Linked DNA regions of Homo sapiens: region 1 is linked to region 2. A link means that fine-mapping ties the variant in region 2 to the expression of a gene that starts in the linked region. Tissue or cell type: whole blood. Region 2 holds a variant in brackets; the other region holds the start of a gene. All regions are shown on one strand. Distances are from middle to middle.

Region 1 (8,101 bases), 29 kb after region 2:
GGGGTCAGGAGAATAGGGTCCTGTGCTAGCTTTGCCACTCCATGGCTAGGTGTCTGGCCCCAACTCTCAGGCCACAGCTTCTTTATATATAAAACAAGGGGACCAGAACTCCACAGAGCTGTTTCTACAGTAGGTCTGGGGAAGGACCACCAGGACTTTCACCCTTTAGGGACCTCAAAGAGACCCCGGGCCGGCTTCCACTGAGCCTCCTTCTGGGGCCTTCTGCTCAGAACCTGGACAAGAGCTGTGGGCTCAGAGGGGAGGATGGGAGGTCTTGGTGCCCTCCTCTGATAGTGAGGGAGAGGAAGGAAGATGTTCTCCAACGCTTCCTTTCAGCTCTGAAAATAAGAGACTAAGAGACAGAGAAAAGAGAGGACAAGGGGGTGAAAGATGAACAAAGCCAAGGAGGGGAGGGATGAGGTAGGTGTGGGCTCACCCCTTCTGCTGCCTGCCCTGGCCGGGCCTTCTCCCCTCAGCTGGCTGCAGTCCTGTAGCCTGTGTAGACAGAGGGAGTCAGGTTGCTGGTGCACAGAAGCTGCCGCGGGCCCCACCCTGACACCCCCCTCCCCGAAGCCCAGGCCCAGAATTGAAGGCAGCAGGGAGATGGTGGGCCCAAGAAAGATGGGAGACCCAGAGCCTTGAACCCTGGGCTCGACCAGAATGCCCAGCAAGGTCCTCTCAACCCCGAGGAGGGTCCCTGCAGCCCTCCCAGCAGTGCCCGAAGCCAGCTCCATCCCGCACCACAGGCAACCTGCCCAACCCAGCCACCCACGTGGACTTGGCCTTGTCCAGGTCCCACGGGCGGCGCCAGTCACCCTGTGCGTCTCTGTGCCGGGCGAGGCGGGCTAGGTCGATCTGCTCCCGCTCCTGCTTCCACTGGGCATAGTCCCAGCCCGCCTCCGGGGGCTCCCCCACCGGCCGGCTCCAGGGCTCCCAAGAACCCTGTAGGGAGAAGACACTCAGAGTGAGGGGGAGAAGCAGGAAGAGGCTTGGGGTGGGGTTTGGAGACTCCAGGCGCTTCCTCTCTCAAGGTTTCCACATCTCCAGCTAAAAATTAGGCCTGTTCCAGCTCTCCCGTGGAAATGGTTTCCATCCACTTGTTAGCTGTGTGTTTTACATAAGTAATTTAACCTCTCTGTGTCTCATTTCCTCGTGTAAAATGGGGAGGATCTCCGTAGCACCAACCCACAGGGGTGTTGCAGGGGTATGCAGACGGGCCGGAGTGGGAGGGGCCCTGGAAGCTGTGAGCAAGGGCAAGGACTAGGGGCTGCTGCCACCTAGAGGTCACACCTGGCACTTGGCCAGTCAACTCCACCCTCCTGCCCCCTCCCCAACTCCCATGCCACCATCAGCAGGGCTAAATAGGGGAGGGGGCTGGATCACATCTTTGGCTTAAACTGTCTCCCACTTCAAGGCCCACCCAAAGTAGAGACTGGCCAGAGAAAGGGAGGAGGAGCAGGAACTCCTGCATGTGCTCCCTTGGCCACGTCCCCGCAAATGAGGGACATATCTGACTCAGCTTCTCTGCCTCCCCCAAGTGAGGACCTTCAGATCCATGTCCCCATCCCCTCTTGAAGACACACCTTCCGTGCAGAATCTGAGCTGATGGCCACCTGCGTGGGGGGGCTTCGGGTCACACGCCCTCCAGGTGACCCCTCTATGCCTTGGTTCCTTGCTCTGGTAGGCTTTTCACTTACAATCCGTTTGCCCTGGGGAGGATGAAGATGGGCAGTGCAGCAGAGCCAGGGAGGAAGAGGCTGCCTGCCGATGCCTGCACTCCCCACCACCCTGCTCACCTCTGCTTTGTTCTCCATGGTCACAGCCAGCTCCACCAGCTCCCCTAAGCAGAAAGTACCCCCGTGGTCCTCAGCATCCTCATCCTCAAGCATCTCGTTGGTCACTCTGGGTCCACAGGTACCCCTTGCCCAGTTCCTGCTAACCACCCGCTTTTCCTGCAGAACAAAGACCCTCAGGCCACATGGGCAGTGCTGGGCAGGACCTGGGTGCTGGGTCCTCTCGGTGGTTCCCCAGGCCTGGGTTCCAACCCCAGCCCTCCCTGCATTCCCCACAGAAGAGCTGACTCCCACAGGGTGTTCACATGCCAATGGCATGAGGTTATCCAGGGCCCAGGGCCACCCAGCGGCCCAAGATGCCACAGTGGCCCGTCATCTCTGAGCTGGGAAACCCAGAGCACTCAAACAATGGGTCTCTGTCCCTCAGACACTGCTCCTGGCATTCAGCCCCAACTTCTCTGTCCCCCACTTCCTGCAGGGTTTTAGCCCCTGGGGCTTGAGGTTTAGGAGTGGCCTGTGCTTTGTGGCATAGGCGCAGGGCTGTGGACTGGAAAAGGGTATGAAGATGCATCTACTGGGGGTAGGGGGGCTTTCAGCTGTGGCTCTTTGGTGGGGACAGCAGTGGTCCGACTGCAGGAGGTTGGGAGCTGGCAGGTGCACCCCAGAATAGTTAGTAGGAGAGGGGAACAGAGGCAGCTGTCTTTCCCCGACATGGTCTGGGCCTCCACCTCCTTGCTACGAGCCCTGTCTCCCAGGGTGAGGCTTACACCGGGAACCTGGCTGATGGTAACGGTGAGGCCATCAGGCTGGAGGAGTGCTGGTGTGGTCACAGCCATCCCCCCCTGCTCTGCCTGCCGACGGTCCTCCTGGATCTCCTGTGGGAGGGCTGGGGGTCAGCACACGCCATGGCCCCCCAGGTGCACAGAGACATAGATGCTGATAGGCCTACACAGAGAGACACCAGTGGGACACCAGGGGGCAGAGGCGCCACATCACACATCCCCAGGACCCTCACCAAGCCTCTAAGAGGGACCATGCCCACCCTACCCCTGGCCCCAGCCCCAGAGGCGCATTGCTGAGCCTGCAGGGAGACCACCACGTGTGGGGCACAGGGAGCGGCAGCCAAGTGGTTTCTCCTGGCCCTGTGGCAGCCCACTCACCTGGTACCTGCGGAGCAAGGCCTGGTTCTTCTTGCGCAGGGCAACTATCCTCCGATCCAGCTCTGCGTCCTTCTCCTGCCTGCTCATGGGGGACTCGGCTCTGGGAGTTCCCTGCAGAGGCAGGGAACCCAAGCTCCTGACTTCCGGGTCCCCCTCTCACCAGTCCCCAGCTTTCACATTTTCACCACCCAAGGAAGAGATCCCAGACCCACAGCTAAGGTCACCCAGGAAGGAAGGGGATTGCTTAGGGAGATGGCCCAAATAAGGCCCCAAGCCCCCATTCCAGCTAGGCCCGTCTGCCTGTCCCTGCCTCCTCAGGGGGCTCAGGTCAGGGCCTCATACCCCAAGCCACAGCTCCCAGCAGTGGGGTGCCCCTCCCCCAGCTCTCCAGGGAGCTTCACTGCCGAGCAGAGCCTGGAATGGGAGTTATAAATGGCTCTGGCAGCGGAACCTGCCGTGACTGGGAAGCTGCCAGGGGATTCGGGAGGTCGAGGGGGGAGCTGTTTGGCTCCCAGATCCACAACCAGAGAAAAAGGAGAGGCCCTGGCTCCGTCCTGGGCTCTCAGGCCCTGGACCCCGCACCTAGGCCTGTGCCCAGCCTGGAGGAAAGAGCCGCTCCCAGGGGCCCAGCCTCTCCAGGCCGAAAGCTGCTGGTAGTCGGGGCGGAGAGAGCCAGCTCCCCTGGCGGCCCCAGCCCAGGAGTCACCCTGGGCAAGCCATGTCTCTGCATCAAGATTCCAGGTTCCTCTCTGTCTGGATGCAGGTTCTCTGTTGTGACCCTAGTCACAGCCTTCTTCCTCCCAGCCCCAGCTGTCCCCAGCTGCCCCCAGAGGGTGGCTGCCTGGTATCCCAGCCCCCTCCCAGTCCCAAGAAGCCCCCTGCCAAAGGCAGACTGCCACTCACAGCCGAGTGCATGGCAACGGCGGGCACCGAGAGAATTCCAGAGCAGCCCCTGGGGAGCCAGAGTGGGAGGAAAGCTGGAGCCACCGGAGCCGGGCCTCTGCCGGCCTCTCCCTGCCGGCTTCGCTGCTCAGCACACGAGATCATGTTGTGATTACAAAAGACTCCTCTGGGCTCCCAGCCAGGAACGTCGGGCCGCCACCCCCACCCTTCCACTCTCAGAGGGCGAGGACCAGGGCACTGGCAGCTGGCTGGTCCTGCCTAGCACCTCTCCCTGCCCCACCCCAGCGTCCCCAGACAGACTGGTAGGGACTTCTCCCTGGTGGGTCAAGCCTACACAGGAGGCCTGGCTGCCTAGGCCCCAGCAGGACCCCAGCCTGGGCCTGCCTGCAGACAAGATGGGCAGCCAGCGTAGGCCTCTGTGCCTCCCATGAGTAGAAAAAGGCCTACAGCACACAGATGCGCCTGCCCTCTCCTGCTCCTTCTCCTCATCAGCCTTGGTTTAAGTAATTCAAAGGGATCAAGAAGCTCACCTCCCCTAGACTACCAAGTACTACCACATCCCTAAAATGACAACAATAGTCATTCATTCTTTTAGGTTGGACATTGTCTTCTCTGTGCAGTCATGCACCATATAATGACGTTTCACTCAACAATGGACCACATATATGATGGTGGTCCCATAAGATTATAATGGAGCTACAAATTCCTATGGCTTAGTGACATTGTAGCCATTATAACATGGTAGCACAGGGCACTACTTATGTGCTTATGGTGACGCTTGTGTAAACAGACCTACGGCATGACAGCCGCACAAAAGTATGGCACATACAAGTGTGCACAGTACAGAATACCTGATAATGATAATTAACAATTATGTTACTGGCTTATGTATTTACTATACTATACTTTTTATCATTATTTTAGAGTGTATTTCTTCTACTTACAACAACAACAAAAAAAAGTGAACTGTAAAACAGCCTCGGGCAGGTCCTTCAGGAGGAAATCCAGAAGGCATTGTTAGCATAGGAGATGACAGCTGCAGGCCTGTTAATGCCCCTGAAGACCTTCCAGTGGGTCAATATGTGGAATGGAAGACAGTGATGTTGATGATTCTGACTCTGTGTAGGCCTAGGCTAATGTGTGTGTGTTAGATTTTGAGAAAAAAGTTTAAAAAGTTAAAAAAAAGAAAAAGTTTCAAAATAGCAAAAAAACTTATAGAATAAGGATATAAAGAGAAAATATTTTTGTACAGCTGTACAATGTGTTTTGTTTGTGTTTTAAGCTAAGGGTTATTACCAAGAGAGTCAAAAAGTTTTTTTAAATTAAAAAGTTTATAAAGTAAAAAGGTTACAGTAAGCTAAGGTTAATTTATTACTGAAGAAACAAAAATATATATTTTTTAATTTTTCATTTTTTGAGACAGTCTCACTCTGTCACCCAAGCCAGAGGTCAGTGACATGATCATGGCTCACTGCAGCCTCAACCTCCTGGGCTCAAGGGATCCCCCTGCCTCAGCCTCCTGAGTAGCTTGGACAACAGGCGCATGCCACCATGTCCAGGTAGTTTTAAAATTTTTTGTAGAGAGAACGTCTTGCTATGTTGCACAGGCTGGTCTTGAACACCTAGGCTCAAGTGATCCTCCTGCCTTGGCCTCCCAAAGTACTAGGATGACAGGCATGAGCCACCATGCCTGACCAAAAAATCATTCGTATAAATTTAGTCTAACGTAAGTGTACAGTGTTTATAAAATCTATAGTAGCAGACGGTAATGTCCTAGGCCTTCAGATTCACTCATCACTCACTCAGTGACTCACCAGAGCAACCTCCAGTCCTGCAGGCTTCATTCATGGTAAGTGCCCTATACAGGTGTGCCATTTTAAATCTTGTACACCATATTTTTACTATATCTTTTCTAAGTTTAGATATGTAAACACTTAGCACTGTGTTACAGCTGCCTACAGTATGCAGTACAGTAACCTGCTGTACAGGTTTGTAGCCTAGGAGCAATAGCTATACCATATAGCCTGGGTGTGTAGTAGGCTGTACCATCTAGGTTTGTGTAAGTGCTCTCTGTGGTGTTCACACAATGACAAAACCACCTAACAACGTATTTCTCAGAACATAGCCCTGTCATTAGCAGACACATGACTATGTTTTAAAGCACAGCCGCTTCCAAGAGGCTCTGTTGTTTGGGTCTCTAGCCCTTTGGTATGGTGAGCCAGGCATTCCTCCAGGGCCCTTGCCATGGCAGTTCAGAGCTGGTCAACAGCCTTCCTCCCTCGGGCCCTAAGTTTGGGCCCTTCCTGGCCTTGCTCTCCAAGACTGGCTTTTTCAGCCTCTCTGAACCTGGCAAAGGAATCAGCCCTTCTCAGGAAAGCTCCTCCCCCATATCTTCCTCATACAGCTGAGACTGGTCTCCCTGCCCAGGCTCCTAGAGCCTCTGGGACTCAAGGCTTGGGGGTGCTGAGAGGAGGGTGGTCTTTCTGGACTAGGAATTCGTGGAGTCTGTTTCCTCAGCTACAAGGCCCTGAGCTCCAGGCCCTCAGGTGAGAATCAGAAGCCCCTGCATTCCCCACATCCCTGATTGACCAGGCCAGTTTCCCAAATGCCACAACTCGTCCCCTCTGTCTCCAGAGCAGAAACCCCCGCTGCCTTCTTTCTCCTCCCAGACCCACCCAGGCAGCCAGAGGTCCAACCTCCACCCCTCCAGAACTGCCCTTTCCTCCCCACTCCCTCCCCCAGCTCCGCCAGGCTTAGCCCTCTTCCTGTCCAGGCCTTTGCACAGCACCCCTGGCCCCACACCCCATCTCCACCACCCCAGAGTTCCCATCTTGCTTGCAAATGCCACTGCGCTCTCCCTTCCTTTCCTGCCGGATGTCCCCACTGAGTCAGACTCGTCAAACTCTCCCAGCAACCATGACGCACCCAGGCTTTGTGCCCTGGGCCTCTCTCACACACATACACGCACACACTCTCTCTCCTTCTCCCAGACGCTCTGCATCCTGCCCCATACAGTGGACTGAGTTCCACGCCAGCCTCAGGAGGCTTCAGAAGCCTCCAGAAGCCTCAAACTTCCCTTCGCCTGCCCCGCACTGTGTTGGAGCTGGGAGGCCCGCAGAGCACTTGCTGGGGAGGGAGACCTAATGCTCTCCAGCCTCTTCAGAACTCAGGCCCGGACCAGGTCTGGGGAGGAGATGTGTAGATGGGGTAAGGAAGCTACAGGGATAAGGCAAGGCTGTGTACCCCCTCCCCCATTCCCAGACAAGGTGGGGGCAAGAGAGTAGCAGGGGGGTAAAGGCATGGGCACAGGCTTATCGCCTGTGGGATGGCCACACAGCTCTTCTGGAAGGGCCTGCAGGAACACACTCCCCTCACCTAGGGCAAAGGCCTTCTGGTCTGTCAGGCTAGAGGGGTATGTGCCCAAGACAAACCAACCATCATACGGGGGGTACCAGCAGCTGCTGACTGTGTGTTTCCCAGTGTTATTCACACATGACGTCACACCTCTGAGCAGCCCCCACAGTCTCCCACTTTCCCCAGAGTCTGTGGTTGGCCTGTCTGCTCTCCATTGGACAGAGGCTCTCTGAGGGCAGGAATGACCTGCCAAGTGCCTCTGGATCCCCAGTGTCTGGCACGGTGCCCCTGCATACTAAAGAACCTCCATCAGCACTTCCAGAATGAAGACATGCGTGAATTGTGCTTGCCATCCTGTGCATAGCTGTGGGTATCCTATGCATAGGCTGGGACTGCCTTTCTGTCCACCTAGAATGTACGCAGCCCTGAGGGAGCCGGTGGGTGGTAAAGGTGCCCTAAGAGTAGCCCCACCCCACCCCGGGGAGAAGCCCACAGGAAGCAGGGGAGATGGAGAAGGACCAGCTTGCCATCCCCATGAGACTGGGTGTCTGTTTCTCTGTGTCGCCACTAAGGGGCAGCAGAGCGACAACAGCCTGTTTTTGGGTGCGGGAGGCGGTTCCCTTTCTCTGTTGTTCCACAGGGCCTCCCCCAAGTCCCTGTAACCTCCACCTCCCAACTCCATCAGACTAGAGAAGCCATCTAGTTGTAGAAGACTTATTTTATTGATGAGGAAGCTGAAGCCCAAAGAGGTGGCGCCCTCTGCCCAGGTGGCACAGCCTGTCTGTGATGCCGCTGAGGCCACACACCCGGGAGCTGCCTCCTGCCCAGGGCGCCTTCACCGGCTGCCCCGCCAATGCCGTTCTGCTGATCCTTCCCTCTGTGCCCTCCCTC
Region 2 (8,085 bases):
TGGTCTCTGGTCAGATTTGGCCCAGGAGGGCTGGAGAAGGACGACATGGAGACCAGCTGGGGAGACTGCTGCCCAGGCCTGGACTGAGGGAAGGCACAGGGAGCTCACTAGGAGAAAGGACCTCCTCAGGGGAAGGGTCCAGAGCATGGGCATCTGACCCCAAAGGTTGGGAGCACCGTAGAGGCAGGGGTGGGGTGGGGACAGGGCCCAGCTGGAATGGAGTGTTTTGAATAAGCAAAGTTTGCTGAACACACGGCTCCTCTTTCTCAATGCTTCCTCCCCCATGAAAATGAGGTGCACCTGCCGGGCGGGCGGGTGCGGTGGCTCACGCCTGTAATCCTAGCACTTTGGGAGGCCGAGGCGGGCGGATCACGAGGTCAGGAGATCGAGACCATCCTGGCTAACACGGTGAAACCCTGTCTCTACTAAAAATGCAAAAAATTAGCTGGGCGTGGCAGCGGCGCCTGTAGTCCCAGCTACTCGGGAGGCTGAGGCAGGAGAATGGCATGAACCCAGGAGGCGGAGCTTGCAATGAGCCGAGATGGCGCCACTGCACTCCAGCCTGGGCGACAGAGCAAGACTCCATCTCGAAAAAAATAAAAAAAGAAAGAAAATGAGGGGCACATGAGGCAAGGCAATCACTCCCCTCACCCACCTCACCAGACTCCCACCTCTGGGCCTCTGGGACTGCCTGAGGCCTGGACCCCCACTGAGCAGCCCTAGCCCCTGCCTCCACTGCGCTCTCCTCTCTCCTCCGTGTGCCCGCCTCTGCTGTGTACCCCAGCCTGCAGCGGGGCTGGGGCGGAGGGATGGCTGCTCTGGTTGGCCAGGCTCAGCCCCAGCTGCTCAGGTGCCTGACCCACACTCTGCCCCAGGCCCAGGGAGTTCAGCACCAGTCCAGCTCAGCCCAGCCCACTTCCTCTTGCCTAATCTGCTCCTCTTATCGCCCTTCTTAGCCCAGCCTGGGAGGCAGGGAGCTCTACCCAAGACTTCCTTCCCCTCTGGGGCCTGGCCTTTTGCCCTGGGTCACCCCCCCATGGGGCTTTGCATACCCCCAACAACGGTAAGACCCTCACCCAGGCCCTAGAATTGTCGCGGCTGGAGGTCTGGTCCAGGGCAGGGTGGAGGGTGAGGGAGGACACTCTTCATGCGGAATTAAGATAATAAACTGCCCAGTGGAGGCTGGAGCTAAGGGAATTCCCAGCACAGAAATAATCTGCAGAAGAGCAATTCTAGGGCCGGGGGATGGAGCCGGAGCAGGGCCTGACCAAGCCTCTGGAAATGGTAACAATTCAGAGGACTCTTCTTCCTCGTTTCCCCCAGTCCCTTAGCGTCATCTCTCCTCTCTCCCTCCCTCCAGTCTGGGGCCCTTCTGGGGGCCCCTCTGGCAGCCCATGCTGTTCTGGGTTCCTCCCTGGGATCAGGTTCCCTCGATATCTGTTTGAATGGATTTTGCAAGGGAAATCCCTGTCCCTTCCCAAAGCCCCTGCACCTGTCACCTGCGGCTGCCCTGGTCCCGGCACCCAAGTCCCTCCCTTTCATCTGTCCTGTAGCCATCAGCCCCCTCTCCACTTTGGGCCTGGAGAGACCAGTCCATTCCTCCCCCTCAGCCTGAGGAGGAAAGGGACAGCCTCCTCTCCTCATTTCAGGATTTCAGGGCTCCTCACTCTGTTCCTTTCCATCTCCAGCTCCGAATCCACAGAACAAAGCCTTGCCCATCTTTACTCAGTGATGTCACTGCCTGCACTGTTCTTGGGACCACAACTGTAGCTTCAGTGGGGGCCTGTACTCTCCTGCTCACATCCTGACCTCCTGCAAAGCTAGCTCCAAAAATGCAGAAAATCCAGGCAGTCAGGAGAGCGGAAAATCTTCATCAAAGAGCTTTTTGCTTTTAAAAATACATTTAGGTTTGAAAATTTGTGTTGACAAAGAAAAATGTTATGTAAATAATAGTAGAGAAAATCAGGGTAGTTACATGAATGCCCCGTTTGGGAAATGTGGCCTTGGGCTCCTGGGCTGAGCTGGGTAGAGGGCAACCCTGCAGTGGGCCAGTCTCACCCCTCCAGGGTGGGCAGTGGAAGGGCAAGGATGCCCCCTGCTGGGTGCACTCAAAGCATGCATGTCCTGGAAGTTGCGGTTGGGTCTGTCATTTGTGACCCACGGGAACACCTATGCCAGAGAGTTTGGCAAGTGGGAGCCTTGGGCCATAGAATGTGGTAAGAACTTATATTCAACCAAATGTTGCCTCCCACAAGGGACATGCTTGTGACCTGGACCCCAGCACATATGTCCCAAGTTCATTTGTTCACTTGCCAGTGCTATGTGGGAGCCCCATGCATTGGTTTCCCAGTTTGCTCATCAGAGAAGTTTAATGGCAGAAGTTGAACTCAGACCTTCAGGTGCCACAGCTGCCAGCCAAATAAGAGGATCAGACTAGGTCGGTTTCTTATCTGATGCCATGATGGTTGAAGCAGTGGGTTTCAGGAGTGTGGAACCCTGTTGTCCATCTTGGTCAAGGGCTGGCCCTCTTTTGGAGGGAAGATGGCTCTTATGGTGTCTGTTTCCCAGTCTGGCAAAGGGAGCCACACTCACCACTCTAGGAACCCAGCCACTTACTAGCTGGTTTATCTTGTGATACTTAACCTTCTTGGGCCTCAGCCTTCTCACCTGTAAAATGGGGATAATAATGCCTCATGGGGATGTTGCAAGGATTAAAGAATATAATGAATGGTACTTAATACAGTGCCTACACATGAGCTCAATAATACTATCATTATCATTATGAGTTATCATTGTTATTTTATTATTACTTATTAGCAGACACTGACAGGAAAAATGGCAGTTTCTTATTCCTTCTTCAACAGTTCTTTCTACAAACGTCTTCACTGACTTTCTCTTTGGATTTTTCTTCCAGCAGTTCGTGTGGATCAGGGGCTGTACCCACCTTTGCAGGGCAGACTGAGTTAGGGTTGCTCCTGTCTGTGGACTTGAAGCAAGCTGTTCCCAAGCGGCCTGAACTCATGAAGTGATGAGCACAAGGGCTCCAATCATGGGCAAGTGCCAGCCTCCCACCAGCTTCATGCCACCACAGCCCCCCAGCTGATGAGGCACAGATGAGAGTGCTGAGCTGCCCAGCTGTGTGTCCCTCTGTGGCCCCAGCTTCAGCCACCCTCTGTGTACTGAGAGCTAAGCAGAAGTGGAGGCATGGGCAAGGCTGGGTAGCCAACACTGATCCCTTAGGGAGGAGAGAGGCAATCAAGTTTCCTGTAGATGCCCAGGAGGAAGATGTTGCTTGTCTTCCCATTCCAAGCCCCTCTATAACCCGACAAGGAACCATCTGGGACTTAGAAGTGGAAAACAAACTGGGCATGGTGGCTCACGCCTGTAATCCCAGCACTTTGGGAGGCCGAGGCGGGTGGGTCACGAAGTCAGGAGCTCAAGATCAGCCTGACCATCATGGTGAAACCCCGTCTCTACCAAAAATACAAAAATGAGCCAGACATGGTGGCACACACCTGTAATCCCAATTACTCAGGTGGCTAAGGCAGGAGAATAGCTGGAACTGGGAGGCAGAGGTTGCAGTGAGCCAAGTTCACACCATTGCCTCCAGCCTGGGTGACAGAACGAGACTCCATCTCAAAAAAAAAAAAGTGGAAAACAATCAGTCCATGTATGTTTCTCTTTGAAGTGCTATTTTGGATCAAATTTACCTGTGTCCATCTTCAAGAAAC[C/A]CAGAGTTTAGTCCCCACTGGAGCAAAGGTTTGTTCTGTGATCTTAGCAAGTTACCTGAGCCCTTGAATCTGTCAAACTTTTGATCATTTCTAAGAATCCTTCCAGCTCTAAAAATCTCTTTCCACTTGGAAGGGCCAATCTTGTCACTTTTCTCTCTTGCCTTTCCTCTGAGAGACAACAAACCTAGAGATGAGAGCTGTAGGTGGCAGGAGAGGCTTAGCTCTCATCCCAGTGTGACATTCTTGGGCACAATCACTCCTCTGCCTCTGTCAATCCCTCTGTGAAATGGGCCAGTTTTAATAAGTGTGATAGAAATAAATTATATGATGTCCTCCTCTAGGTGGGCACGGTGCATTGCATATAGGGAAGGTCATCAGTATTGATCAATTGCTTCTGTTCTTACTCCTGTCCTGGTCCAACCTTTTTTTTTTTTTTTAGAAGTTAAGCCTTTATTTCCTTGTTTTGTAAATAAAGCTGGCTGAGTTGGTTGTTTTTTGATGATTAGTCAAAGAGACCAAATCCCATATCCTCACCCAGCTCCTCCACCTCTTCCTTGGCTTCAACCTTAGCTGGGGCTGCAGCAGCGGGAGCAGCCGTGGTGGCAACAGCCACAGAGGCAATAGCCACAAATGCAGATGGATCAGCCAAGAAGGCCTTGACCTTTCCAGCAAGTGGGAAGGTATAATCAGTCTCCACAGAGCCAGGGCTCATTTGTACCCACTGATGATAGAATGGGGTACTGATGCAACAGGTGGGTAGCCAGTCTGCAGACAGACACTGGCAACATCGCGGACAACCTTCAGGAAGCAAGAAGGAAGTTTCCTCTGTGATGTCAAGCACTTCAGGGTTGTAGATGCTGCCATTGTCAGATGCCTGCTGGATGACCAGCGCAAAGGAGGAGGGAGAAATGCTCGGCGTGTTCAGCAGCGTGGCTTTGTTGGCTCCCACTTTGTCTCCAGTCTTGATCAGCTGCACATCACTCAGGATTTCAATGGTGCCCCTGGAGATTTTAGTGGTGATTCCTAAAGCCTGGAAAAAGGAGGTTTTCTCTGGCCCCAGACCAGTGTTCTGGGCTGGCACAGTGACTTCACATGGGGCAATGGGACCAGCACAGGTGGCAGCTGGCACCTTACTAGCCAGCAACATGTCCTTGATTTCAGTGAGGTCCTCCTTGGTGAATGCAAAGCCCACATTCCCCCAGATATGAGGCAGCAGTTTCTCCAGAGCTGGGTTGTTTTCCAGGTGCCCTCAGATGGCCGTGAGCATCATGGTGTTCTTGTCCATCAGCACCACGGCCTTCTCTCAGAGGGACATGCAGATCTGCTGCGTCTGCTTGGAGCCCACATTGCTGCTCCCACGATGAAACATTTTGGATAATCATCCAAAAGCTGGATGATCTTGAAGTAGTTGGACTTCCAGGTCATCCTGTCTTCCCTGGGCATCACGGCAGTGCATCAGGGATTGCCACGCAGGGTTTAAAGACAATGTCACTTTCACGAGGATGCCAAGAGAGAGTTTTTTTTTTTTTTTTTTTTTTTAATATACGATGTAATCTCACCCTGTTGCCCAGGCTGGTCTTGAACTCCTGGGCTCAAGCAATCCTCCCACCTCACCCTCTCCAGTAGCTGGGATTATGGGCATGTACCACCAAACTTGGCATCTGATCCACCTTTTTATCAGGACCTGGGCAAAGCCACAGAGAACAAGCCCCTCAACTTTGCGAATAGCAAGGAGCCAGCGAAGACAGGAATATGTTGGAAGACAGACTCAGGATCCAAAAACATTCTAACCTATTGGAGCACTGGCCTAAACCTCCCAAGGTGAAATGAACAGGGCTTAACTGAGAGATCTGGGCTTGGTGCCAAGACACCGACTGTACAAGGACAGGGTGGGGAAGTGGCAGCTTAGCAGAAGCATGTGTGAATAAAACTGAGGGTTTTCGCTGACAGCCAGCTCCATCTGAGTCAAATGACAGAGCTGCCAATAAAAACGGGCAGACTCAGGCTGCCGAACTGAAGTCGGGTACTGAGCCCTGTGGTTCTCCATCTTGATATCACACCAGAACCACCTGCAAAGCTCTGGTAACACTGCATATTCCTTGCTGTACCAAGACCCTCTGAATCGTGATCTGGGATGAGATGAGAGAGGGAAAGGAAGGTGAGGAGTTTGCATTTCTTTTATTTTTTTTTAGAGACAGGTTTCACTCTGCTACCCAGGCTGGTCTCAAGCTCATGGGCTCAAGCAATCCTCGTGCCTTGGCCTCCCAAAGTGTTGGGATTATAGGCATGAGTCACTGCGCCCAGCCAGGAGTTTGAGTTTCTAAAGAGTATCCCCCCTCATTCCAAGATGCATCCAGGGCTTTTGAACCAAGGAACAATCAGTCCCATTCTCATTCTCAGCACAACAGACCACACCCAAAATACTTGAGGAATTCAGTTTAGGTTGCTTTGTTGCAGGGAAGGTCATAAGTTGAAGGATATTTGGTGGAAAGCAGCCAGGATGCAGGCAACACTCTGAAGAGAACCACTTTATAGAAGACACAGGTGGCCAGGAGGCCCAACTTCACATGGATGAGTCTTGTTCTCTGAGGTCCCAAAAGTTAGAATCTAGGCCAGGTGCGGTGGCTCACGCCTGTAATCTCAGCACTTTGGGGGGCTGAGGGGGGCAGACCATCTGAGGCCAGGAGCTCAAGTCCCACCTGGCCAACATGGTGAAACCCCATCTCTACTAAAAATATAAAAATTAGCCAGGCGCAGTGGCACATGCCTGTAGTCCCAGCTACTCAGGAGGCTGAGTCAGGAGAATTGCTTGAACCCGGGAGGCGGAGGTTGCAGTGACCCAAGATTGTGCCACTGCACTTCAGCCTGTGCGACAGAGCGAGACTCTCTCTCAAAAAAAATTTAAGTACATATTTTTTTAAAGTTAGAATCTTAGGAGACTGTCTTAGGTCAGGTTTCTCAGGAAACATGCCGAGATAGAGATTTTCTTGTAGGAAGTTTATTGGGGGTGCTTTCAGAGATAACATCTGTGAACTAGTGAAAGAATCAGAATCAAGCCAGAGGAAGAAATTGGTGAACAATGCAGTCACAATACAGAATGCTTCCACAGGAAGCCCTGGGGTTGAGCTGGCCCCGTAGAGTTAGCCCCAACTTGGATAAGAGGGCTGTACCTTTGAATTCCACATTGACTTGGCAGATGACCCCTAGGGAAGGGTTGTGAAGTCCAGCAAGACAGCTCCCTTTAGCAGCTGAAGGAAATGCCAAGGGAGAGACTCATGTGTGAGCCATTGGCAGCCAACACTTCTGGCAACTTCAGGGATAAGCTCCTTGGTCCTAAAAGCAGTATCTGGGTGGTGCACCACAGCAACCGAGACAGTACCCCCAGGCATAGCCCAGACCTACTTGATTTATGTGGTAAGTTCACTCTACCTGGGAATAGCTCCTCCTGGATTCTGGGAAACTTACAAGAATTAAATGGAGAAACTATAGCCCCCACTACTGCAACTAGTCTTGGTGACACAATTGATGTTCATCATTCCCCTTCTCTGTCACTCATTCTAGATTCTTTTTACCTTCAACTTGCACCTCTGCTGGTGTAGGTGGCTTGCCTGTCGGGGTAACCAATCACCAATCACCATGGCCTTCAGACCATGCTGCTGATGTGTCCACCTTCCACCAAAATTGGGCATACCAACAGACACCCCAGTGGATCACCTGGGTGCCAAACATATTCTTTCCTGACCCCCTTATGTAACAGCAGCCCTATCTCTCCCAAAGGATGGGGGTCAGTTGCCCCTTCCAGGAAGTGACTCCTCTTCTTTCCTGCTGGTTTCTTGGCACAAAGAGTCTGACGAACAGAAAGCAGCCATACTTAAGTTTATGGGGTTCTTGTTCTGTCCCTGGTGGAAGTGCTCCCCCTCTGGGAACCAGATTCTCTGAACCTGGAGAGCTTGGAACTGCAGGAATGGGAACCACAAATTCCTCCAGAAAGGTCACTGGGAGTGATGGTAAGTGGAGTCATTCCTACTTCTACCCCTAGTTTCCTAAACCTCTATTCTACACGTTGACACATAGCACCATATATAACAGTTATTGATTAGGATGCATACCTCATCCTGGAGCACGGTGTCCCATCATCTCTAACATGGTATTTCAGCTGTGCTTCTAAAGGCTGTTCTATCATTCCACCAGCTCTATTCAGCTTCTGGATGGTGAAGTATGTAATAGGCCTAAAAGATCCCATGATCATGTGCCCATTCTATCCTTAAAGTGGGACTCTTGGTCTTCTGCAATGGTATGTGAGATCCCACGTCAGTGAATCAAACACTCTTTTAGCCCCCAGAGAGTGGCCTTT

What was found. PIP is the estimated chance that this variant, and not a neighbour inherited with it, causes the effect.
Region 1: it holds the start of CCDC9B, and the variant in region 2 is fine-mapped to the expression of CCDC9B in whole blood (TOPMed, PIP above 0.99).

The regions. Positions count from the first base shown.
Region 1 is chr15:40,336,952-40,345,052 of GRCh38, forward strand. CCDC9B (coiled-coil domain containing 9B) reads right to left here and starts at 3,988. Exons shown (of 11, transcript NM_207380.3): 1 at 3,857-3,988; 2 at 2,954-3,064; 3 at 2,561-2,668; 4 at 1,797-1,952; 5 at 1,584-1,709; 6 at 773-942; 7 at 437-495. The coding sequence starts at 3,868. RefSeq lists enhancers at 1-171, 3,081-3,884, 6,829-7,328, 7,512-8,101 and silencers at 7,679-7,788, 7,809-7,898.
Region 2 is chr15:40,308,116-40,316,200 of GRCh38, forward strand. LOC112268152 (a long non-coding RNA gene) reads right to left here. Exons shown (of 3, transcript XR_002957721.2): 3 at 1,922-2,667. It also overlaps the pseudogene RPLP0P10. Among named protein-coding and RNA genes, the nearest start is that of PLCB2, 4.2 kb to the left of the region's middle. RefSeq lists a silencer at 1,950-2,153. The variant C/A (reference allele first, on the strand shown) is at 3,732.